Linked DNA regions of Homo sapiens. The protein of the gene in region 1 purifies or fractionates together with the protein of each later gene. This does not show direct contact. Each region holds a gene or a part of one and is shown in the gene's direction. Other genes may lie near its edges.

Region 1 (3,013 bases):
TAGGGAGCATTCCACGCCTGCAGAGAGCAAGTGGCCCAGGGACCTTCGCCCAGTGATTATATGAGGCTTTTTCCAGGGACATTTCTGCCTGTCCGCAGAGTTGAGGGCCCTGCACTTGATTGTGGAGCTGGAGGGTGTGCAGTGTAGGCCAAGTGGGGCAGCTCATTGTCCCCCAACACAACAGGAGCTCCCGGATCAGGGCAAGTCAGGAACATGATGGAAACCAGGTATGGCCAGGACCTCAGGATACCTGGGTTCATATCCTGATTCCATTACTCGCTTGTTTGCTGACTTTGGACAAGGAGTAGACTCTATTTTTTTTTTTTAATTAAATAAGGGGATGGGACTAGATTGTGTCTAAGGATCTATAAACCTGACCACATATATTAGGATTCTTTATATTGTAAGAGACAGAGACCAAATTAAAATTAGCATAAGCAAACAAAGGGAATTAATTGGCCCATGTAACAAAATTATCTGGTTTCTGGCATATCTAGATTCCTCTCTCTCTCTGAGCTTTCAGCTTCTTTCCCTGTGTTGGTCTCCTTTTCTCCTGCTAAAGATGGGCTTTCTCTCCTTGGTGGGAAACACAGTCCATGGCCACCTCCAATTAATTTCATAGCATGTTGGCCCAAGAAACAAGGCTCCACTCTCAGAAATCCCAAGGGAGATTCTAAGTGGCCCAATTTGGGTCATGTGCCACCTCGGTCCAATCATAGGCTGGGCCAGTGGCACATAATGACCTCAATATCAGACCAATTGGTGGTTCCACCAGAATTATACAATAGAGTGGAAAAGGAATTATTCCCCAAGAGAAGGAGATCACTAAAGAGACTAGAAAAGAAAAATGTCCACTCTAGTATGATTATCAGATTTTGGCCTAGTATAAAAGGACCTTATTTCTTCCTCTGTACTGATTATAAACTTGAGCGGTCCAAGCCCCACTCTGATTCTGTAACCTCACTTTCTCCCAGCACTACAGGGGCCAAATATCTATTTGACTCTGGTAGTTCCTTCAGATTTGGGCTCTGACACCATTTGTAGCCTTAAAACAAGTCCCATAATTCCTTTGAAACTTTATTTCCTGCTCTGACCATTGGGGAATTTGTGCTAATTGGTATGATTTTAAAGAACTGCTCATTTTAAAGAATGCTTGATGCTCGAAATAACAAAACACAGGAAACAGCCTAAAAGTTCGCTAGGGGACAGGTTGAAAAGTTATAATGCATTCATATAATGGAATACTATGCTGATGCAAAAAAGAATCAGGACACCCATATATGCCTAACATAGAAAGATCTCCAAGATAGATGTTTGGGGGAAGAGCAAAGTGTAGAGCAGGGGTGTCCAGTCCTTTGGCTTCCTTGGGCCACAATGGAAGAAGAATTCTCTTGGGCCACACATAAAATATACTAACACTAATGATAGCTGATGAGCTTTAAAAAAAATTTCAAAAAAAATCTCAAAATGTTTTATGAAAGTTTACGAATTTATATTAGGCCACATTCAAAGCTGTCATGGGCCGTGGGTTGGACAAGCTTGGTGTAATGTGTTTGAAATTTTAACCATTTGCGTTTTAAAAGGTCATGGGGTGAAATATATTAGCTTGAATATGCCTGGTGAATATGCATTTTTAAGTCCCTGTAAAGATACACAAGAAACTGGCCAGGTGCAGTGGCTCACGCTTGTAATTCCGGCACTTTGGGAAGCCAAGACAGGCAGATTGCTCCAGTCCAGGAGTTCAAGACCAGCCTAGGCAATATAGTGAGACCCTGCCTCTACAAAAAATAAAAAAATTAGCCAGGCATGGTGGCATGTGCCTGTAGTCCCAGCTACTAGGGAGGCTGAAGCAGGAAGATTGTTTGAGCCCAGGAGGTGGAGTTTGCAGTAAGCCGATATCGCGCCACTGCACTCCAACTTCGGCGCTAGAGCGAGACCATGACTTAAAAAAAAAAAAAAAAAAAGATACACAAGAAACTAACAACAGTTCTTTTGGGAACAAGGGTGGAAACTGGGGAGATGGACAGGTATAGGAGGGAGACTTCCCTGAATGCCTTTTTGTACCTTTGAATCTTTAAATCATGTTAGATATTATTGATTTAAAAAAAATTGTTTTTCAAAAAAAGGAAAAATTGCTTAAACAAAGCACATACAAAGTCTCCTTCAGATGCAGAGCTGTATAAAAATACTCTCAGAGAATTACTGTAATCAACGTCAAATACACAAAAACTGATGATGCTGTTTTCTTACTTAGGCACTAAAAGAAGAAATCAAAGAGATGCATGGATTGCGGATATTTACCTCTGTCCCCAAACGCTGACCACGCCCTGGCTGCATAGATGCTGCTGCTTAAGACCTTGGATGAACTTCACTGACATCATTCTTCCCTAAGCAGTCACCAAAAAATTTATATATTTTGCTCATATACATTTCCATATTATAATTATAGAAGATGTATAATCTATTTAGATGTTAATTAAAGGAAACAAACAACTGAAGCTTTTGAAGGGTCATTAGTAATGTTTCAGGTTCCTTTATTTTGGCCAAAGGGGTCTTGTCTTTAGACAGTTCTGTCCTGCTACAGAGAGAGAATGCAGTGCCAGCTTTTTGTCTTTTGAAGAGGTTTTCCTGTTTCTTCCCCTCCACGAAACTGCTCAGGCCTCTTCATCTTACTGAAACAAAGAAAAGATCCTTTACTATTGCTGTTCTTTTCGTTTATCATTCTTTTCTTCCCCCTCTAAACTTCTTACATGAATGATCTTGGACCCTCAATTTCTTATGCTCTGAAATGGACTCTGAAAATTTGGGGGTGCCAGGATCCGGGTTCTTTTCCTGTGTTTGAAGATCCTCCACCCTTTGATTCTTGGTAGGAGGCAGAGCCCACCTCCCACGACAGAAGCTGAAAAGGCTTACTTTCCCTGCCTCCCTCACAGCTGAGGCACAGGCAGATATTCCAGACTCAGCCAATCAGATGGACCTGCCCTGAACTTGGGAGCAAGTCACACCGAGGAGC
Region 2 (3,500 bases), on another chromosome or scaffold:
CTGTCTTAAGTTCTCAGCTTACTGTTATCACTATTATTAGCTAATATTTATTGGGTACTTGCCACTTGCCATACACCATACCAGATTTATGATGTGCATTTCATTAATACTCACATCAACTCTTTGAACTCAATACTATCATAATTCCTATTTTAAAGTTGGTGAAACTGAGGCCTGGAGAGATTAAATAAATTGGCCAGGGTTATAGAGTGTAACCTGTAAAACCAGGATTTGAACTCGGGTTTAGAGAACTCCAAAGCTCTAGTCCCACTTAGACATCACTTTTCCAAGCATGGAATTGGTTCTCCTTTTATGAGCTCCTAAAACGCTATAAACTTCCTTTTATATATATCATACCACGTGATAATTGCCTGTTTACCGTTCTGTATCTCCCACTATTATGTAACCTGTCAGGGCTAGGATCATGTCTGTATTGGTCAACATTTTGTCACCAAGGCCTTGTATACAATAGGCATGTAGCAAATATTTTGTTGAACAAGTGTTCTCATTATTTTAGATTAACCTTAATTCTCCCTCCTTATGACATATTTGGTGTTTCACAAGCATTCCCAATCAGTAAGGTCCCAAAAGTTCTATTATGAACGTAGGTGGTTTATAGCTGTTTCTTCTTCTCCCTTTCCCTGTCCCTGCCTCTTTCTATTGTTATTGTTGTTTTGTTTGTTTTTATAAAAATCTTGAGAAATTCCTTCTTAATCAAAACATCGTGTTTCATTTAATGACTTTTCTTCCTTGGAATTCAAGAAAGTATTCCTGTGAAAGCCCAGTGTTTGCCTGAATGGGGCCTCAAAGATTAATAAAACACAGGCCCTGTGTGCAGGAAGCCTAAGTTTTAGTGAAGGAAACTGTATTTACAGAAAGTCAGTAAATAATGTTAATTGTCTAATAATGTTGTATCTTTAGATTTTGAGTATTTTTTATGTTTAATACTTTAAAGAAAAATAAGCCGTTAGAGGCCTATCAAATTTTACATGACTCCAACTTACTTTTTAGGGAAAAAATGCAACTTCTCTGTTTGTTTGTTTTTAGAGACAGGGTCTCACTCTGTCACCTAGGCTGAAGTGCAGTGGCATGATCATAGCTCACTGCAGCCTTGAACTTCTGGGCTCAACAATCCTCCTGCTTCAGCCTCCCAAAGGGCTGGGATTACAGGCACGAGCCACTGTGCCTGGCCAAAAGTCAATGTTTAAATGTCAAATAATGTAAACAAATAATCTAAAAGATGATGTAGGAGAAATAACAGGGTGTGAGGATTGAATTTTTTAAATTAAAACTTTTGTGTAGATAATTAATGCCTACAGTGCCAAAATCAAAAGGTACAAAAGGATATGCAGTGAAAGTGGGTGTTGCCCTTCTACGCCCACTCTTGCACCTGCCTAACCAGTTCTCCTCCTTAGAGGCAACTACTAATGCCAATTTCTTGAGTTTCTGTCCAAAGGTTCTTAGTACCTAATGAATGATTAACTGACAAAACTTAACTTAAGCAAAATTGCAAAATATATCCTGTTTTGCAAAAGGCCCTTTTGCCCCTTTACTTTTTTTTTAAATTTATTTGTCATGTACCCTGTTGACTAGGATTGCTCCTTTTTAACAGCTATTTTATCCTTTCCCAGGTACCAAGTGTTAGTATGTGGGGTAATTTTGTCTTGGAGAAAACCACACAAATGCATTCTTACAAAGTGATAATAGCTTTAATTATTGTTTCCTTGAGCTTTTGCATTTGTAGGGGCCTCTTCAGGAAGAAGTCAATGCTTAGCACCAGGTAATAAATCCCAAAAGTGGAATTAGGCATCAAATGGGGGAATGGGGACATAAATGGAAGGGATGGGGAATATAATTTGGATAGATGTTCCCCTTTTATTAGGGTACTTAGTAGGACCTATATATTTTGGTTCTGGGTTTATTCTCTGGTTAGGAAAAAGCCTAAATATGTTCATCCTGGAGGCAAGTGAACATCAAGATAATGTCTAATAGCTATAGCTAACAAATGCCAAGTTTTTGAATGTGTGTGAATCCTAAAAGGTGGTATTATTAACCCTATTCAAAAGATAAGGAAACTGAGGCTCAGGTAACTGAGGTTAAGTGACTTGTCCAAAGTCATACACAGTAATAAGTTGCAGAAATGAGGTTTTTATGAAAATCTGAAGGTCATTTTTTGCATGAAGTGCTTGTTGCCAGTTGCGGTTAATCCTAACATAACATTAAATCTATGTAGAATAACTACTTAAATCCCATTTTACACATTAGTGATATGCAATCTAACTCGAACACTAAGTGAATTATTTTACTTCCCTTCTCTCGTAAATGAGAATATGTTGTTTTCACTTTAGTTTAAAAATAACAATTCAGTCATTTATATAACCCCCTAAATGGCCTAGGCACAGTTTGTGCGTAATTGTATCTTATTTACCAGCATAGTGGATGATTGCATTTTTAAATGCATAAATTTCCTCAAACTTCTGTTTAGTTTCAAGTGAGAAAGCTGCCCCAAACCATAATTAGAAATTATTCTGACACCAAGATGGAAAGTGAATGTGCTGGAGGCTCTTCACATGGCAGCAGATTAACAGTTCTTGATAAATCATCACCGCCAACTAGTTAGAACAACTGCTCCTTTTCAGGATTTTTTTTTTATTGTTTTGACTCTTCTACATGGCCTTGGCAGTAACGTTTGGAAATTGATGTGTCCCAGAGACTGGGATGCATCCAATAATGTAGTCTCTTCCTGTGCAGCTGATCTTGAAAGCCTTGAAAATAAGGAACAAAATGACTAGGGAGTGACTTCTATTAGATACTATTAGCTGAAAATGAGCTTTCTGCAGAGATTCTTAGACTCATTAGAGAACCATTATAAGACTAAGAAGGCAGGGCTAGATCCCTTGTAATTCAGATATGCTGGAAAATTGCCTTTGCATGTATTTGAATTCTTATTAAGCTCAGATTTCTTCAAAATTAGTTTTTATTATAATAATGGTAGGTATCCATCCATTAATATAAACCACAAAAACAGAAAAATCTACTTACAACTTTTCAACAAACAGATTTACCTTCCACTGCCTTTGTGTCATAAGTAAATTGTTTGTGGCATCTTATGATTCTCAATATAAATTTGGAGGTGCATGTTTTAAAAATGAGTGCTAGTTATTAATTTTATGGGCTTTTGCTACTAAAATCTGTAACCATTTCAGAAAGCCTCATTTTTTGACTGGAGATCTGGATATGTGTAGTGTTCCTTCCTGCTTATCAAGGGAGTACCATAATTAAAGAGAAAATGACTAAAACCTTAATAAGAGAGAAAAAAGTTTCATTTATATCTTATACAGAACATAGTGCAGTATTTATTTCAGGTTGTCCATAAATATTTACTTACATAACTGAATCCTCTGAACTTCCATCAAAATATTCCCCTGACCTTTGAAGTTAGCTTCCATCACTTCCCCTAAACTGATATTAGATATTAAATCTGTCAGACATCTCAGGCT
Region 3 (3,500 bases), on another chromosome or scaffold:
TCTGTATTGACTGCAGTCTTTTGCTTTCTGGTATTTGAGACTGTACACAAGTCTGCACTATAATTCAGATCCCATGTAGAGGTAGGATTGCCAGATGGTGGACTATGAACCCTGGTGAATCCTAACCATAAGGAAACATTCAGAGGATATCTCACAGAACAAGGTAGAGCAAAGACATTTTAAATAAAGTCCCAGGCTGGACGGGGTGGCTCCTGCCTTGTAATCCCAATGCTTTGAGAGGCCGAGGTGGAAGCGTTATTTGAGTCCACGAGTTTGAGACCAGTCTGGGCTACATAGTGAGACCCTGTCCTACAAAAAATAAGAGAAAGTCCATTTTGGTACGAGGAGGCTACTGTCACTTTATTAGTATAATTGTTTAATCTGTACTACTTTAAAACCAAGTTTATATTTTCACTTCTTTTTCAGGTAGGTGTAAAAGTTGGTGTCCGAACCAGGGGCTGTAATGGCCTTTCTTATACTCTAGAATATACAAAGACAAAAGGAGATTCTGATGAAGAAGTTATTCAAGATGGTGAGTTTTTAACAAACATTTTTTGGGCACATTGTTTTGCCTAAAATTATTAGCCTTGCACAGCACAAAGTAAAAAATAAGGATAGTAGCAGGAATTATGTAAATAATGCTCACTGTGTGTGTAGGTGTTGTTTGATGGAATTTCATGTATTAACTGATTTATACACAATGCTGAATGTGGGTGGTACCATATTATCCCTGTTTTTCTGATGAAGAAACTGAGGCACAGAGGGGTTAAATAGTTTAAGGTCATAATAAGTGGCCTAGTAAAATTCTTTCCAGAGACTGCTCTTAGTAACTAATTGATAAATTATTATATAAGCTTGTTTTAACTATGAAAGATCATCGTTGTGTCCAAAAAGTGAACCAGCCTTAAACCTCACAGTGAACCAACAGTTTTTGTGTAAGCAGTAGTTTTATATCTGTGTCAAATAAGTACGAGTTGAGCATTCCAATCCAAAAATCTGAAATCTGAAATGCTCCCAAATTCAAAACTTTAAAAGTGGGTGCTGACATGACACTCAGAGGAAATGCTCATTGGAGCTTTTTGGATTTGGGATGCTCAAGCAGTAAGTATAATGCAGATACAGTCATACATCACTTAACATTGGAGATACATTCTGAGAAATGTGACGTTAGACAAATATCCTGGGGTGTACTTAGACAAACCTAGACGGTCTGAGAAATGTGACATTGGACAAATATCCTGGGGTGTACTTACACAAACCTAGATGGTAGAGCCTACCATATGCCTCAGCTAGATAATATAACCTGTTGCTCCTAGGCTACAAACCTGTACTGCACGTGACTGTGCTGAATACTGTGCACAGTTCTGACACAATGGTAAGTATTTGTGTAAACGTACCTAAACAAAGAAAAAGTATAGTGAAATTTCTTTTATTATTATTATTATTATTATACTTTAAGTTTTAGGGTACATGTGCACAATGTGCAGCTTAGTTACATATGTATACATGTGCCATGCTGGTGTGCTGCACCCATTAACTCATCATTTAGCATTAGGTATATCTCCTAATGCTATCCCTCCCCCCTCCCCCCGCCCCACAACAGTCCCCAGAGTGTGATGTTCCCTTCCTGTGTCCATGTGTTCTCATTGTTCAATTCCCATCTATGAGTGAGAACATGTGGTGTTTGGTTTTTTGTCCTTGCGATAGTTTACTGAGAATGATGATTTCCAATTTCATCCATGTCCCTACAAAGGACATGAACTCATCATTTTTTATGGCTGCATAGTATTCCATGGTGTATATGTGCCACATTTTCTTAATCCAGTCTATCACTGTTGGACATTTGGGTTGGTTCCAAGTCTTTGCTATTGTGAATAGTGCCACAGTAAACATACGTGTGCATGTGTCTTTATAGCAGCATGATTTGTAGTCCTTTGGGTATATACCCAGTAATGGGATGGCTGGGTCAAATGGTATTTCTAGTTCTAGATCCCTGAGGAATCGCCACACTGACTTCCACAATGGTTGAACTAGTTTACAGTCCCACCACCAGTGTAAAAGTGTTCCTATTTCTCCACATCCTCTCCAGCACCTGTTGTTTCCTGACTTTTTAATGATTGCCATTCTAACTGGTGTGAGATGGTATCTCATTGTGGTTTTGATTTGCATTTCTCTGATGGCCAGTGATGACGAGCATTTTTTCATGTGTCTTTTGGCTGCATAAATGTCTTCTTTTGAGAAGTGTCTGTTCATGTCCTTTGCCCACTTTTTGATGGGGTTGTTTGTTTTTTTCTTGTAAATTTGTTTGAGTTCATTGTAGATTCTGGATATTAGCCCTTTGTCAGATGAGTAGGTTGTGAAAATTTTCTCCCATTTTGTAGGTTGCCTGTTCACTCTGATGGTAGTTTCTTTTGCTGTGCAGAAGCTCTTTAGTTTAATTAGATCCCATTTGTCAATTTTGGCTTCTGTTGCCATTGCTTTTGGTGTTTTAGACATGAAGTCCTTTCCCATGCCTATGTCCTGAATGGTAATGCCTAGGTTTTCTTCTAGGGTTTTTATGGTTTTAGGTCTAACGTTTAAGTCTTTAATCCATCTTGAATTAATTTTGGTATAAGGTGTAAGGAAGGGATCCACTTTCAGCTTTCTGCATATGGCTAGCCAGTTTTCCCAGCACCATTTATTAAATAGAGAATCCTTTCCCCATTGCTTGTTTTTGTCAGGTTTGTCAAAGATCAGATAGTTGTAGATATGCGGCGTTATTTCTGAGGGCTCTGTTCTGTTCCATTGATCTATATCTCTGTTTTGGTACCAGTACCATGCTGTTTTGGTTACTGTAGCCTTGTAGTATAGTTTGAAGTCAAGTAGCGTGATGCCTCCAGCTTTGTTCTTTTGGCTTAGGATTGACTTGGCGATGCGGGTTTTTTTTTTGGTTCCATATGAACTTTAAAGTAGTTTTTTCCAATTCTGTGAAGAAAGTCATTGGTAGCTTGATGGGGATGGCATTGAATCTATAAATTACCTTGGGCAGTATGGCCATTTTCACGATATTGATTCTTCCTACCCATGAGCATGGAATGTTCTTCCATTTGTTTGTATCCTTTTTTATTTCATTGAGCAGTGGTTTGTAGTTCTCCTTGAAGAGGTCCTTCACGTCCTTTTTAAGTTGGATTCCTAAGTATTTTATTCTCTTTGAAGCAATTGTGAATGGGAGTTCACTCATGATTTGACTCTCTGTTTGTCTGTTATTGGTGTATAAGAATGCTTGTGATTTTTGTGCATTGATTTTGTATCCTGAGACTTTGCTGAAGTTGCTTATCAGCTTAAGAAAATTTTGTAAAAGATCAAATGTGGTCGGGTGTGTTAACACAAGCCTGTTGTCCCAGCTACTCAGGAGACTGAGGCAGGAGGATTCCTTGAGTGTAGGAGTTCAAGAATGTAGTGCACTGGCCAGGCGTGGTGGCTCACCTGTGTAATCCCAGCACTTTGGGAGGCCGAGGTGG
Region 4 (4,027 bases), on another chromosome or scaffold:
GCCGTGTGGCGCTGCCCAAGAAGCCGCCCCACCCCCCTCCCCACCCCCGCGGCCGCCACAGGCTCCGGCTTTCGGCCCCGGGGCTTCAACTCGCCGGTTCCCCTCCGCCCGGCCCAGCTTGAGGCCTGCACCGGCCGCTGGGCAGCGCCAGGCTCGGCCTCGGGGCCCCGCCTGTCCCAGATCCCCGGCCGCTGCGTGAAACGCGAGAGCGCTGCCGAGCGGGGACTCCCTGAGGGAGGGACCTCGGACCCCGACGGACGCCCGGGACGCGCGGGCTCTCGGGCGCTCCGGCGGGGCTCGGCCCGCGGCTCCACAGCCCGCTGCACCCGCGCGGCTCGGAGCAATGGAGGATCAGGCAGCGGCAGAAGCTTCCGTTTCCTCCTTTTTAAATGGCTCCAAAATATTTCTTGTCGGTGGTGTGGAGTAGAGATTTATTGGTAAAATACTTGACAGAAAGCAGGCACTCAGCTGAGTAAATGGTGACAAAATTGGTGAGAAGATTTTTGAACAGGAGTGAACGAGAAAAGCCATGCTTAGAAAAGTCACCTGGAAACTGTGATTTAGAGGGATGGTAGGAAAGAGTGGCAGCAGGAAAGTGGTTTGGATGCTCTTTCAATGGTCTAGAAGAGGTCATGGGGCGGGGGTAGAGGGACAGCTACCAAGACAGGGAGCCTGGCCGCCGCTGTACCAGCGGGATCGAGCCTTCGGGTAGAGGACCGGAGAAGCGTGAGCAACCCGGGGCTCGGAGGTTGGAGCCCAGGCACCTGAGAGAGGACGTTCCCCACCACCGCTGCCTAAAGCCACTCCAGGCGAGAATCGCTTTCCAGGGCCCCAGCGGATAGGTTAGACTCAGAATAAGAGAAGGGGTCTGCGGAGGGGGACGGCCTGAGGCCCGCGGCCGGGTTCCCTCCCCAGACACCCGCGGAAAGCCCGAAAGGAGGCGGAACACGGCCCAGCGGCTCGCCACGGCGGGCCCATCCCTTGCTTAGCCGCCTCGCACCCTCGCCTCACCGCACTGCTGCACTGCTGCACTGCTGCCCTGCTGCCCGCCCTTCGCATCACTGACCCGCCCTCTCTCCGCCCCCTCGCCTCGCCGCCCCGCCCTCTCTCTCCGCCCCTTCACCTCGCCGTCCCGCCCCCTTGCCTCACCGCCGGGCTGAATTGCCGCCCCGCCCTCTAGCCACGCCCTCTGGCCCCTGCCTCTAGCCCCGCCTCTCGCCTCGCCGCCTCGCCGTCCCGCCGCCTTGCCGCCCTGCCACCCTGCCGCCCTGCCGCCCTGCCGCCCTGCCGCCCTGCCGCCGGTGGTCGCTGCCCGTGGTGCTCCGTCGCCCCCGCCACCTCACGTCCTCCCGTGCGTCGGGAGCGTCTCGGCTACAACATGTTGGGCATGATCAAGAACTCGCTGTTCGGAAGCGTAGAGACGTGGCCTTGGCAGGTCCTAAGCAAAGGGGACAAGGTAGGCCCGCAGGGCTGCCGAGGACCTGAAGGATTGCTGCCTCCCACCCCCACCCTCGTCGGGGCTGCAGCGGGTGCTGAGGGGCAGGTGGGGCAGGAATGTGCTATCGAAGGTGCGTTCTGGTGTCTGTCGCGAGTGCGGCTCTCCACCGCCCAGCATTTGGACTGGGAAGGAAAGGAGTGAGAGGTCCCCCTGCAGCCGGTGGTGAGAGGAGGGGGGTAAACAGGAGAGACTGATCCAAGGAGAGAATCCCAACTTGGGGAGTTGGGCACTGCCTGTTGAATGCATTCTTTCGTTTAAAATATTCCAAACATTCCGAACAGTTTGATTTGTTGAGAGACACTCGGTTGCAGAAATGAGTGTCGCAAGAAACTCCCAAGTACTAGAGAACTGCGGATAGTAGCCCCCTTTATCCGCGATTTCAGTTACCTGTGGTCAGCTCTTGTCCATAACTATTAAATGGAAAATTCCAGAAATACAGAAGTCCTAAGTTTTAAGTTTCCGGCCATTCTGCGTAGCAGGATGAAATCTTGATTCCTGGGACCGGAATGCCCCTTTGTCCAAGGTCAGCCTCCTATCTCTAGTAGCCGCCCTTAGTCACTTAGTAGCTAGCTTGGTGATCGGATCGACCGTGGCGGTATTGAAGTAACCCTTATTTTACTTAGTAATGGCCCCAAAGTGCAAGCTTAGCAATGCTGGCATATTGTTATAATTGCTGTTATTTTATTATTGTTGTTCATCTCTTACTGTGCCTAATTGATAAAGTTAAACTATATCATAGGTATGTATGTATAGGAAAAAACGTAGTAGATACAGGGTTCAGTTTTGTCCACCGTTTCAGGTATCCACTGGGGGGCTTGGAAGGTATCTACTATAGATAAGGGGGACTACTGTGTAAAAGAACAAGATCTGTGCAGAATAGATATAAATGCGCTACGCAGGGAGCACAGAGGCAGTCAATTCTGCCAGGGGGCTATGATGGGGACCTCAGTGGAGTGTCCTGAGCTGGGGCCTCAGGGATGTGTAGGAGTGCACACAACAGAGAAGAGCATGCACAAAGGCCCAGAGCTGTACCATTGCTTTTGGCCAGTTAGATCCTCTGGAGTTGGGTACCTAGAATACAGAATGAGTGAGAAGAGCATAATTGCTGTCTTCCCCCAAATTTATATCAGTGCTAACATGGGCTAACTGGACTGCACCCCTGAAAACAAGGAGAGTGCTGCTAGATTATAATCTCCTGGTGGACAGGTAGTTTAAACAGTGCAGCTGTATACAGAGCTCCCAATACGATGCCTCATTTGTGAAAGGACTGTATTGCCTGGGGGCCAAGTTCTGATACCTAGTACAATGATCTTCATATCACGAAAGCCCTCAATTAGACTCTAATCTGAACTCTTTGACAACCAAAGACCTTTCACCTGTTCTTATCTCCGTTTCCCCAGCTCTATGTAGAATGAACAGTTTAGCCCTGATCAGAGGTCCCACATTTGAATACCTGCAGCAACCAGGCAGGTAATGGAAATGGATGAAGCTGGCTGTTTTAGGCTATAAGGCATAGTGGGGACTGAGGCAAATCAGAGAGTGAACTCAGGTCCCCATCTCTAAACGGCAGTTCCAGCCACTTGTTGCTATGCAGTGATATATGAAACAGTGTTGCCAAATTCTTAAGGAAAACCATACATCCAGATTCTTAGCGAAATCACCCAATTTAAAAATAATTCGACAAAAACTGTTTTTTGAGTGCTATGTGCCAGGCACTCTTCTAGGCAATGGGATAAAAGATTAAAACCAGCAAAATTCTCTGCCCTCATGGAACTTATGTTTTATTGGCTAATGAACAAATAAAATGTATCATGGATCAGATAGTGATCAGTGCTGTGAAGAAAAGCAAGCAGGGGAGTGAGGAATAGGGAGTATTAGGAGTGAGGCTGTGATTTTGAGTAGGGAAACTGACATAGTTGTGCATAGGCTGGACACAAATGCAATAAGGATGCCAGTTATTAATATCAGTCCTGCTGTGAGCATCCAAAGGACCCACCCAAGCCAACACAGAGAGCTGTCTATCCGCCTCCCTGGGCAATGAAAAAGGCACCTGATAAGGTCTGCAGCATCACTGGCCTCCCCATCAAGTAGTTGCCCTACTCAGAACCACAGCCTTTCTCCTAACAGCCCTGATGAAGGTTCCTGTGATTCTAACACTTTAAGAATCCATGTGTTCTTGCTTTTGTCATGGAATGGGGCTCACTTTGTCTTTTTGGATTAATGATGATGGCCCACACAGGCGGAGAGGGGTCTGGGCTGGTTCGTGGCCTGTGCCCTCAGATTCCTTCCTCACCCATTCCCTGCTCTGCTGTCTTCCTGTGGAGTGGAAGCTGACCCATTCGGCCTGTTTCCCAGGCCAGATGTCAGCCGGCGCCCAGCTACGTTTGCTCAGTGGGAGTCTCTACTGGGAGATAAAAAGGGAGAAACCAGAGTATTTCTCCTCCTTCTCCACCCCATCAGATCCATACTACTAGGAGCTTCTCTGTGGCTTTGGCTTCCGCTACACAGGCCACCATGATTCTAGCTTCT
Region 5 (2,603 bases), on another chromosome or scaffold:
AAAGCTGGTTGTATGAGTCTGTTTTTACACTACTATAAAGAAATACCCAAGACTGAGTAATTTACAAATAAAGAAGGTTTAATTAACTCACAGTTCCACATGCCTGGAGAGGCCTCAGGATACTTACAATCATGGCAGAAGGCGAAGGGGAAGCAAGGCATGTCTTACATGGTGGCAGGAGAGAGAGAGCGCACAGGGGAAATGCCAGACACTTATAAAACTATCAGCTCTCATGATAATTCCCTCACTATCTTGAGAATAACATGGGGTAAACTGCCCCCATGACCCAATTACCTTCCACCAAGTCCCTCCCTTGACATGTGAGGATTACAATATGAGGTGAGATTTGAGTGGGCACAGAGAGCCAAACCCTATCACTGATTTAAGCTGAAGAGTGAAGGAAGCCCTTTCTAGGGAGGGATCAAACGAGCTGGGACCTGAATAGGAAGAAGGTACCAGCCATGCAAAGATCTTGGAGAAAAAGGTCCCAGGCACGGGGAGCATCAAGTGGAAAGGCCTTAAGCCAAGAAAGAAGGCTTACATTGCTGGAGTAAAGTCAGAAAGGGGAAAAAGGTAGGTCTTGTCAGAGAGATGGGCAGGAGCTAGATTGTACAGGGCAATGAAGGTCATGGTTAATATAATGCATGTAAGAGACCGAGTGGGGTCTTTTCTGTTTTCCAAGGATTGCCAATTAGGACGAGCTCAGAAAATAATGATGCTTCATCCAAGAATCACCACTGTAGGAGCTGCCAGATTTCCAAAGGACTTGCTCAGAGGATCATTTCTGCAGGACTACTACTATAAACACTGGCCCCATACACACCTCTCTTCCTATCTTATGACAATAAAAGAGAGTGTGTGGCTGCCTTTTGGAGGAGAATTATTTGTAATGGTAATATCTCCTCCTTCCTCACCCCTAAATCTTAGGGAACAGCCCCAGTAGCATCACTCATATAGGTTGTGTGGACCTACAAAAACATAAACAAAAAAAGAGAGATTGAAATTTTTACTGGATTGGACTAAGTCTAAATAATGAAAAGTGGCTGGGTGTGGTGGCTCACGCCTGTAATCCCAGCACTCTGGAAGGCCGAGGTGGGCGGATCACGAGGTCAGGAGATGGAGACCATCCTGGCTAACACGGTGAAACCCCATCTCCACTAAAAATACAAAAAATTAGCCAAGCATGGTGGCGGGTGCCTGTAGTCCCAGCTACTCAGGAGGCTGAGGCAGGAGAATGGCGTGAACCTGGGAGGCAGAGCTTGCAGTGAGCCCAGATCGCACCACTGCACTCCAGCCTAGGTGACACAGCGAGACTACGTCTCCAAAAAAAAAAAAAAAAGTGACTAAAAATGTATCATATGAAAGTAGTCTCACACCCAGTGAGTGCCAATGTTCTTCAAAACCATGTACAAGAACAACTTTAATCCTAATGGTTTCAAAAAAACTGGAAACCAGTCCGAGGTTGTTTCCCAAATGGATAATGTGTGGTATAATTGGACAGTGAATACTACACAGTAATTTAAAAGATATAACTTTTGCCACACGTCGGAGATGAATCTCACAGATACAACACTGAGTGAAAGAAGCCAGATAGAGAAGAAATCAAATATATGACTCCATTTTGGTAAAGTACAAAAGTAAGCAAAACTAAGTTATGCTATAAATTAAAATAGTGGTGACCTTTTGCAGGGAGATAGGGGTTGGCAGGAAGGAAACCTAAAAGTAGCTTCCTAGAGTGGTAGAAAAGTTCTATATCTTGATAGGAGTGGAAAGTAAATAGGGGTAAATGTATGTAAAAATCCATTGAGCCACACTCTTAGTATTTGTGCAGCGGAACCTGGGCATGCTGGCACATGCTTGTACTCCCAGCTACTCAGGAGGCTGAGGTGGGAGGATCATTTGAGCACAGGAGTTTGAGCCTGGGCAACATAGTGAGACCTCATCTCTAAATATATACATAAAGTAAGATATACCTTTAAAAGGAAAATTACAAGACCTTCAAAGAAAAAAATGAGATGTGTTCGATATCCTTACAGAAGCTTGTTTCTCTTAAAGAAAGGGGTTCCACAGAGCCTGTGTGGTTGCAGTTGTTAGAAAAATAAAACGGCTCCCTGTTTATACTATGCTTCATCAAGCACGTGTGACCAGCACCTGCACATACTAAATATTTTGTAATAGCTGCTCTTATCACTGTGATTGCCACTGTTATTTTATGTAGTAAATAAGTTTTCATTCTTAGTTGAGCTGTCATTTACACCTATTATTTCACACTTGAAAAAGGTAAGGAAAACACGAAATGTTAACAAAGACAAGACATGCTTTTGCTTTCACAACATCTTTCTCCTTAAGGTAACTTTCTGGAATTTGAAGTTGTTGATAGGATGAATGGGGAAAACATTTTGGGGACTGGGTTAGGTGTCTGTGTTAGTCCTCAGATTGGTATCTGTGTGTTTTCACAGGTTTCTTCAGTGCTCCGGGGATTCCTAGACTTGATGTTGGTGAGGGAGCCCTCTCAGAGAGCAACAGCCCAGGAACTCCTCGGACATCCATTCTTAAAACTAGCAGGTCCACCGTCTTGCATCGTCCCCCTCATGAGACAATAC
Region 6 (3,500 bases), on another chromosome or scaffold:
TAGGAAGCCCCCCAGGAATAGACCCTGGTTGTGAGGCTGTCTGAGGAGGCCTTTTGTCTCCCGGTAGGAGCACGTTTGCCGTGGACGGGAAAGATTGCAAGGTGAATAAAGAAGTGGAGCGTGTCCTGAAGGAGTTCCACCAGGCCGGGAAGCCCATCGGGTGTGTACAGCCGTGCAGGCCTCGGGGAGGGAGGGAGGAGGGTGCGTGGGCCCGCGGCCTCTGTTCTCAGCCAGGAGCTGCCGCTGATCCTGAAAACTCACAGCTGCTTTTCTTGTTTTAACTGAGGGGATTTCACACGATGTCACTGGTGACTTAACAGGAAGGAGAGGCACAGTGCACTTCCCTAGAGGAGGCCTGGAATTCTCTTGGCTCCCAGAGGTGTCCCTAGGCAGTCCCTCAGGACCCCTATCCTTTACCAGACCCCTTCTCCCAAGCCCCTTAGCCACAGTACCCCCAACCCCGCTGACTTCTGGCCAGTCACTGCAGCACGTGCTCCATCCCTGACGCCATCCACTCCCAGCGGCCTCCCTCCTGGGGAGCCACAGCCAACCACGCCCCTTTGTCCCTGCTCAGACAAAGCCTGGGTCCTGAGGTTGGCGGCACGAGTAGGGCGCCCACTCCTTCATCCACGTAAGCGCCTTGGCTTACGTGGCGGGTCGCAGCCCCGCAGGGAGTGTGTGCTCTTCAGCGTCTGCTGCCGGGAAGTCACTCTCAGATGTGTGAGGGTGACCCAGCAAGGCCGGGTTCCGCCTCGGCAGGTGTGATGCTTCCACGAGCCTCCCGGCACCTGCTCCTTGGTGGTCCTGGAACGCGGCGCTGTGCTGTCCAGGTCTCAGCTGCGTCTGGTGCTGGCAGGGCGAGAGCCGCACTTGCGTGGGTGAACATCAGTGAGGCGCACTCGCGATGGCCGCTCACTACCGAGTTCTGTCAGCCGAACAAGGATGAGGATCTATCGGAATCCTCTGTCTCCCCATCCACAGTCACTCACTTAAGGACCTGCCTGGTCACTGTCCAGGGAGGCCCCTAAAGTGGAGCCTCAGGAAGAGGTGCAGGCTCAGAGCTCCTGAAGGAGGTCCCTGCTGCAGCCGTGTCACAGCCGGGGTGAAGGTTTCGCCCATGGTCTCCACCTCGGGATCCCGTCCTTGTCAGAGAAGTGTTCCTTGGATGAGCGCCCAGAGGGAGGAGCCCATGGCCCTTTCTTCTGTGACTGATTAAAAATCTCGATGAAACAAGACAGCCCCTGGCAGGTGAACCACTGCCTCTGAGCATGCCTCCCCTGAAAACAGTGTGGGGCGCAAGCCCATCTCCTCCCCAATCCAGCCATGAGGCTCCCCTGGAAACAGCACAGGGCGCAAGCCTGTCTCCTCCCCGGTCCAGCCATGAGGCTCCCCTGAAAACTGCAGGGCACAAGCCCGTCTGCTCCCCGGTCCAGCCATGGGGCTTCCGTGCACGGTGACCCACAGGCTTTTTTCCTGAGGAAACCTAAATCCTTTCCCACTGGCCCCACCCACCCCTCAGCCTGGTGTCAGAGGCCTGCGTGGCCAGCCAGGGGCTGTTAGGCGGCCCAGCCGCTCACTGCTGGGACCCCTTCCTTGAATGCAGTAGTCGAGGTGGGCGCTGGGCTGTGCCAGGAGCCACTGTGGCATCTGTAGCTGGCAGTTGATGGCTGGGCGGCTGCACGCAGCGTCGGGAGCTGCTGAGAACCTGCTTCCTGGACTTTCTGCCTGCGCAGAGGGCGGCAGGGGGGTTTCATCTCATAGGCAGCCAGAAGTTGCTTCAGGACATGCAGTTTTGGGGGCGGGTTTGTTTTGAGAGTATCGCTCTGTTGCCCAGGCTGGAGTGATCTTGGCTCACTGCAACCTCCGCCTCCCGGGGTCAAGCAATTCTCCTGCCTCAGCCTCCCAAGTAGCTGGGATTACAGGTGTCTGCCACCAGGCCGAACTTTTGTAATTTTAATAGAGACAAGTTTTCGCCATGTTAGTCAGGCTGGTCTCGAACTCCCGACCTCAGGTGTTCTGCCTGCCTCAGCTGCCCAAAGTGCTGGGATTACAGGCATGAGCCACTGCACCTGGCTGTGAAATGTGTTTTTAACAGTGTTTCGTTACAGCTCACGGTAGCAGTTTCCACCTGGGCCTGTCGGGAGTGGGTAGGACTGTAGACAGCGGGAGGAGGGATGAAGGGTGCGGGGTGTTGAGGGCAGGGTGGGGCCTGACAGCTGTGGGCTACACCACAGGTTGCCAGGGGATGGGGCTGCTGTTAATGAGGCCGTACTCCTTCCACTGTTGCCCCTGGGTGGCCATGAGGCGCTGGACGACACAGGTCACTGAAGGCCCTGCTGTGGGCACAGTGCCTGGCACACAGGGGCCTCTGTTGACTTGGCAGGGAGGGGTTCCTGATGAAGCAGAAGCAGGTCCCAGGGGTGGGTGTGGCAGGACCCTCAGTTTCAGGGCTGCTGCGGCCTGTGCGTCAGGGTCAGGGGCGTGCGTCCACCAGCCTGCACTTGTTGAGAGTTGTGCTGCAGGTCGGAGGCTGGCGAGGCTGCTCCTGGCCCGTTGTGCCTCCTGTAGAAGGGGGGCTGGTGTGAATGAGAAGTGCAGCTGTGTTATCTATTGCTGGGTCACAGACCACCCCACAACTCAGGGCTGGGGCAGCCGCACATCATTACCCTCTCTGTGAGTGGACTTTGGCAGCCCGGGACTCTCGCCAGTCTGGGGTGTCCTGGGGCTTGGGGCTTAGCCCATGGCTGTTGGGGGTTCCCCTCAGGGGTCCTTGGCCTGGTGCTTGAGTGCCTGCAGGGCGTGCTTGGCGGGGAGTGGGGCTGAGGACACCTCACTCTCAGCCTTGAGTCACCTGGTGCCACCTCCATCACATCCCATGGGCCACAGCCTTCTGGCAGCGCAGGCTCACAGGGGGCAGGGTCGGCAGGGCTCCCGTGGCAGGGCAGCCTGGGGTCATGGCGAGGGTAATTTCTGTTCTGCAGGCCATGCAGCCTGCCTGACCCGTGTTCTTTTCGCCTTTCAGCTTGTGCTGCATTGCACCTGTCCTCGCGGCCAAGGTGCTCAGAGGCGTCGAGGTGACTGTGGGCCACGAGCAGGAGGAAGGTGGCAAGTGGCCTTATGCCGGGACCGCAGAGGCCATCAAGGCCCTGGGTGCCAAGCACTGCGTGAAGGAAGTGGTCATATCCTTCCTGGTAGCCAGGCCCGGCCCGCTGTCGTGCTTGTCCCTGAGACGTGCATAGGGACGCCCCTCCCTCCGGGCTGTCTTGGTGGGTGGCCTCTTCACCGGGAGCTGCACCTGCTGCTCTCCCTGTGGGGCCTCCCCCAGTGGGCACCGCAGCCATGTGTCTAAGGGCAGAGAGCAGATGGCTGTGACAGCCCAGCTGGTGTGAGGTGGGTCACAGACACGTCAGAAGCGCAGCTCTGGTGCGTGGTTGGCAGATCTGGCAGATCCAGGTCCCTTGCCTGACTGTTTAGTCTGCTCAGCAACACCCAGGCAGCCA
Region 7 (3,500 bases), on another chromosome or scaffold:
ACAGATGCTCAAGTCCCTTTTATAAAATGGCATAGCTTTGCATATAACCTATGCCCATCCTCCCATGTACTTCAAATCATCTGTAGATGACATAATACCCAATACAATGTAAATGCTGTGTATTACCCTGTACTATTTTCTAATTTATGTTATTTTTATTGTGTTATTTTGTATTGTTCTTTTTTACTCAAATATTGTTAATCCATGGTTGATTGAATCCATAGATGTAGAATCCAAGGACATGGAGGACCAATTGTATGCAGCAAACTTTGTTCTAAGAACTTCGCATATATTAACTTGTTTAATTCTTGTAGTAACCCTATAAGATAGGTGTCATTATCCCCTTTTACAGATAAGAGAACCAAGACACAGAGAGGCTCAGTGACTTGCCCAGGGACACAAAACTGGTAAATGGTGGAATTAGGATTCAAACTCTGGCAGTCTTGGTTCAGAATCCTACTTTTTCCTTTTATGCTCAACTGTTTATTTGAGGACATGTATATCTGGAGGCGGCATCGGATCATTTGGTTTTTCCTTTTCACAACAAATCTTGCAGAACCCCAGGATTCTTCAGAGGGGTCTGAGGAAGCACAGAAAAGGAGGGGATGGGACATGCAAGTGGACTATGCTTTCGATCTCCACCTTGCAGCCATCAGCACCTCTTCTTTTATTATTATACTTTACATAATAGCCGTAGGTTGGAGGAGGTTCTGTGGCTGATATAGTCCTACCCCTTTGATTTACAGATGAACCCCAGAGAATGGTAGTGACTTCCCAGGGCGACTGCTGGTTAGTTCTGGACTGAAGACTAAACTCATGACTTTCAGTGTGGTTTCTTCTTCTGTCCAGACCAACGATGTGTGTGTGAATTCTGATATTCTAGTAAAGTTATAGGCTATTTTTAAAGCCCTTGGTTCTGACTATCAATAATTTGGGAATAAATACCCCTTTGGGACTTTGATTCAGCTGATCACTCTGTAGATGGACCTCAGTGAATCCCAAATTGCTGCTGGGGAGCTCCTTCTTTTGCCATCAGGCTTGAGCAGTGTGGAAAAAGAACCTACCACACAGAGATGGCACTTGCCATCTCTGACACAGAGCAAAGCATGGGAAGGCGTTAGGACACTTTCTTTGGGCATTGACGGGAGGGGACAATGGTACTGAGGGGGTCTGAATAGCAATGAGCTGCCATGAGATATATGAGAAACATTGTAGTTTCTTTGGTTAGATCTTTGGTTAGACCAGCAATTCATCTAAAAGCCTGGCTTTTTATTTTGGGCAAGGCTATGGGGTCTCTGAGAGGATCTGTGGCCTTGTGTCCACTTTTCTCAGTTTGTTATGTGATAAGTCACCATAGTGGCCTATAGGATCAGGCTTCAGGAAGCAACTTAGTTCTGATAACACTATTATTTATTAGAATGCCCAAATGCTGGTAGTGCTTTACAGCAGGGATTTTTTGGAAGGTGTCAGGGAGTTGCCAGTCTGTTTCAGGTCTATTACCTGCTCTAGTCTATTTGTGGCCCGATAGGAGGGCTTGCGCTAGACAGAACAAGGCTGCTGCCACTAACTTTTTTCATTGCTCAGATTATAGGAGAGCCTCCTTTGGCAGGGCCAGGGCATGTTGAAGGCATTTTCTGTCCTTAAGGAGTAACCTTGATGATCTGCCTCTCAGAGCAGATCTCTGCTCCATCTCTGTAGACAAAGAGAAGGGGGTGGAGATGCTGGGAAGAACAAGCTGAAGCCTCTGCCTGCCTGTGCTTCCTCCCTTTCTTCCAGGACCCATCATCATCCACACTGATGAAGCAGATTCAGAAGTCTTGTATCCCAACTACCAAAGCTGCTGGAGCCTGAGGCAGAGAACCAGGTAACTGCCCCTGGGTTCTTGCTCACCAGTTGGGGACAACCTTTTACAACCTTTGCTGGCAGAACTCTGTCTATACTGAGGGCCTGTCCAGGCTTACCCTACTGGCGAATAATGGATGGGAAGGTTTAAATTACACTTAAGTGTGACATCAGCTGTCTAGGAAGCGAAGAAGTCTTGTTCACAATGACAGACCCATGGTGAAGGCCAGGAATTCTGGGAAGAGCCGCACACTGGGCTAGCGAGATGATACATACAGCCACGAGTGGGCCTTTGCCATTTACAAAGTATGATCCTTCTGACAACCCCGGTCTCTCAGGTGGGGCAAATGAGAAAACCAACAGGTTAAATAAAAGATGATTGAGACTGTCTTTAACCGGCAAATCCAGTTGTACAAGCCCAACAAGACACAGATTTTTCTTCTCTTACCAATATGTTTCTATGTAAGATAGATCGGTTTGGGCTGATGACACTTTTCAGGTATCTCTAGGCTGCACTAAGACTATATGGTATTTATTCCGTAAAGAAAAGAAAATGCTGTTTTCAGACAGACCTGGGCCATGCTTGCATCATTTTTGATGCAATGCAAATGCTAGAGTGAGATTTGGAAAATTTCATCCTGTTATCCTAACCCTGGTACTTGCTAACTTAACGTTATAAGTCATTTGACCTTATAGAGCCTTAGTTTATTCATCTATAAAATTGGGATAATACCAGCTAACCCCATTGGGTTGTGGGGATTAAATGATATCCCAAATGATAACCCAAGTGTGAAGCACACTTTGTAAACTGTTAATCACTATAGAATATAAGGCTTTACTTTTTATTTTTTGTCAGAGGCCGGAGGCAGACTGCCTCTTTACAGCCAGGAATCTCAGAGGATTTGAAAAAGGTGAAGGACAGGATGGGCATTGACAGTAGTGATAAAGTGGACTTCTTCATCCTCCTGGACAACGTGGCTGCCGAGCAGGTGAGTCCTGGGGTTGGGGAGCCTGGGATAATAGCCTTGGTGGGCTGGCTCCGGAGTTAGAACCGGGTGGAGAGAAGTGGGTGGAGGCCTCCTGGTTTGAAGGCAACTGTGATAAGACCTACAGATAGAATGGGTGTGGGGACTGAGGGATAGGGAGCAATCGAGGAAGACTCCTTACCCAGGTAGGAACACAGACACTGAACTCTAGACCAGAGCTTCTTGAGGCATGTTCCCCAGAACACCCAATATGCAGTTTGTGTTTGGGCAGGCAGGGGCAATGGGTAGGGAGGGATGAGTAGGGTCTAAAAATTTTGGAATCCTTATTTATTGCATCACTTCTTGAGAGTACTATATGTACATCAGCATATTAAAAAAATCTGAGATGCCCTTCATAAAGAAAGCTGGTTAATCTTTAAATCTGTTTTCCTTAAGCTTATTTAGCCATAGGATCTTTTTTTCTGTAATAAATACATAAAGAAGACTAACAATGGGAAAGGTTTCTCTAGATTTAAAAGTTGGACATCCAAAGTTATATAGGATCCTCCCCACTCTTGTGAAAATAAAATGACTGTGTACCCTAAAGGCAGAAATGCACCTTGCTTTTATGTGTAAAATAGGTTTAAGGTTAGAAGGCAAGAGTTCATATCATGTATTTGTATGGCGTATTTT

The links.
Region 2: the proteins of BOLA3 (region 1) and DDAH1 purify together in Homo sapiens (affinity purification with mass spectrometry; one large-scale study listed by BioGRID and IntAct). This does not show direct contact.
Region 3: the proteins of BOLA3 (region 1) and ISCA1 purify together in Homo sapiens (affinity purification with mass spectrometry; one large-scale study listed by BioGRID and IntAct). This does not show direct contact.
Region 4: the proteins of BOLA3 (region 1) and HEBP1 fractionate together in Homo sapiens (co-fractionation; one large-scale study listed by BioGRID). This does not show direct contact.
Region 5: the proteins of BOLA3 (region 1) and PAK5 purify together in Homo sapiens (co-immunoprecipitation; one large-scale study listed by IntAct). This does not show direct contact.
Region 6: the proteins of BOLA3 (region 1) and GATD3 purify together in Homo sapiens (co-immunoprecipitation; one large-scale study listed by IntAct). This does not show direct contact.
Region 7: the proteins of BOLA3 (region 1) and ACP6 purify together in Homo sapiens (affinity purification with mass spectrometry; one large-scale study listed by BioGRID and IntAct). This does not show direct contact.

Annotation. Positions count from the first base shown.
Region 1 is NC_000002.12:74,134,900-74,137,912, reverse strand, and holds the end of BOLA3 (bolA-like protein 3), read left to right. Parts: intron 1-2,254; coding exon 2,255-2,320; coding exon of another isoform or gene 2,321-2,391; 3' UTR 2,392-2,513; downstream 2,514-3,013. UniProt on the Homo sapiens protein: Acts as a mitochondrial iron-sulfur (Fe-S) cluster assembly factor that facilitates (Fe-S) cluster insertion into a subset of mitochondrial proteins. Probably acts together with NFU1.
Region 2 is NC_000001.11:85,458,660-85,462,159, reverse strand, and holds part of DDAH1 (N(G),N(G)-dimethylarginine dimethylaminohydrolase 1), read left to right. Parts: intron 1-3,500. UniProt on the Homo sapiens protein: Hydrolyzes N(G),N(G)-dimethyl-L-arginine (ADMA) and N(G)-monomethyl-L-arginine (MMA) which act as inhibitors of NOS. Has therefore a role in the regulation of nitric oxide generation.
Region 3 is NC_000009.12:86,269,039-86,272,538, reverse strand, and holds part of ISCA1 (iron-sulfur cluster assembly 1 homolog, mitochondrial precursor), read left to right. Parts: intron 1-426; coding exon 427-532; intron 533-3,500. UniProt on the Homo sapiens protein: Involved in the maturation of mitochondrial 4Fe-4S proteins functioning late in the iron-sulfur cluster assembly pathway. Probably involved in the binding of an intermediate of Fe/S cluster assembly.
Region 4 is NC_000012.12:12,997,466-13,001,492, reverse strand, and holds the start of HEBP1 (heme-binding protein 1), read left to right. Parts: upstream 1-1,227; 5' UTR 1,228-1,378; coding exon 1,379-1,456; intron 1,457-4,027.
Region 5 is NC_000020.11:9,539,474-9,542,076, reverse strand, and holds part of PAK5 (serine/threonine-protein kinase PAK 5), read left to right. Parts: intron 1-2,459; coding exon 2,460-2,603.
Region 6 is NC_000021.9:44,140,183-44,143,682, forward strand, and holds part of GATD3 (glutamine amidotransferase-like class 1 domain-containing protein 3, mitochondrial isoform 1 precursor), read left to right. Parts: intron 1-67; coding exon 68-160; intron 161-759; coding exon of another isoform or gene 760-892; exon of another isoform or gene 893-981; coding exon of another isoform or gene 982-1,216; exon of another isoform or gene 1,217-1,233; intron 1,234-3,022; coding exon 3,023-3,179; intron 3,180-3,500.
Region 7 is NC_000001.11:147,653,525-147,657,024, reverse strand, and holds part of ACP6 (lysophosphatidic acid phosphatase type 6), read left to right. Parts: intron 1-352; exon of another isoform or gene 353-407; intron 408-1,776; coding exon 1,777-1,864; intron 1,865-2,698; coding exon 2,699-2,831; intron 2,832-3,500. UniProt on the Homo sapiens protein: Hydrolyzes lysophosphatidic acid (LPA) containing a medium length fatty acid chain to the corresponding monoacylglycerol.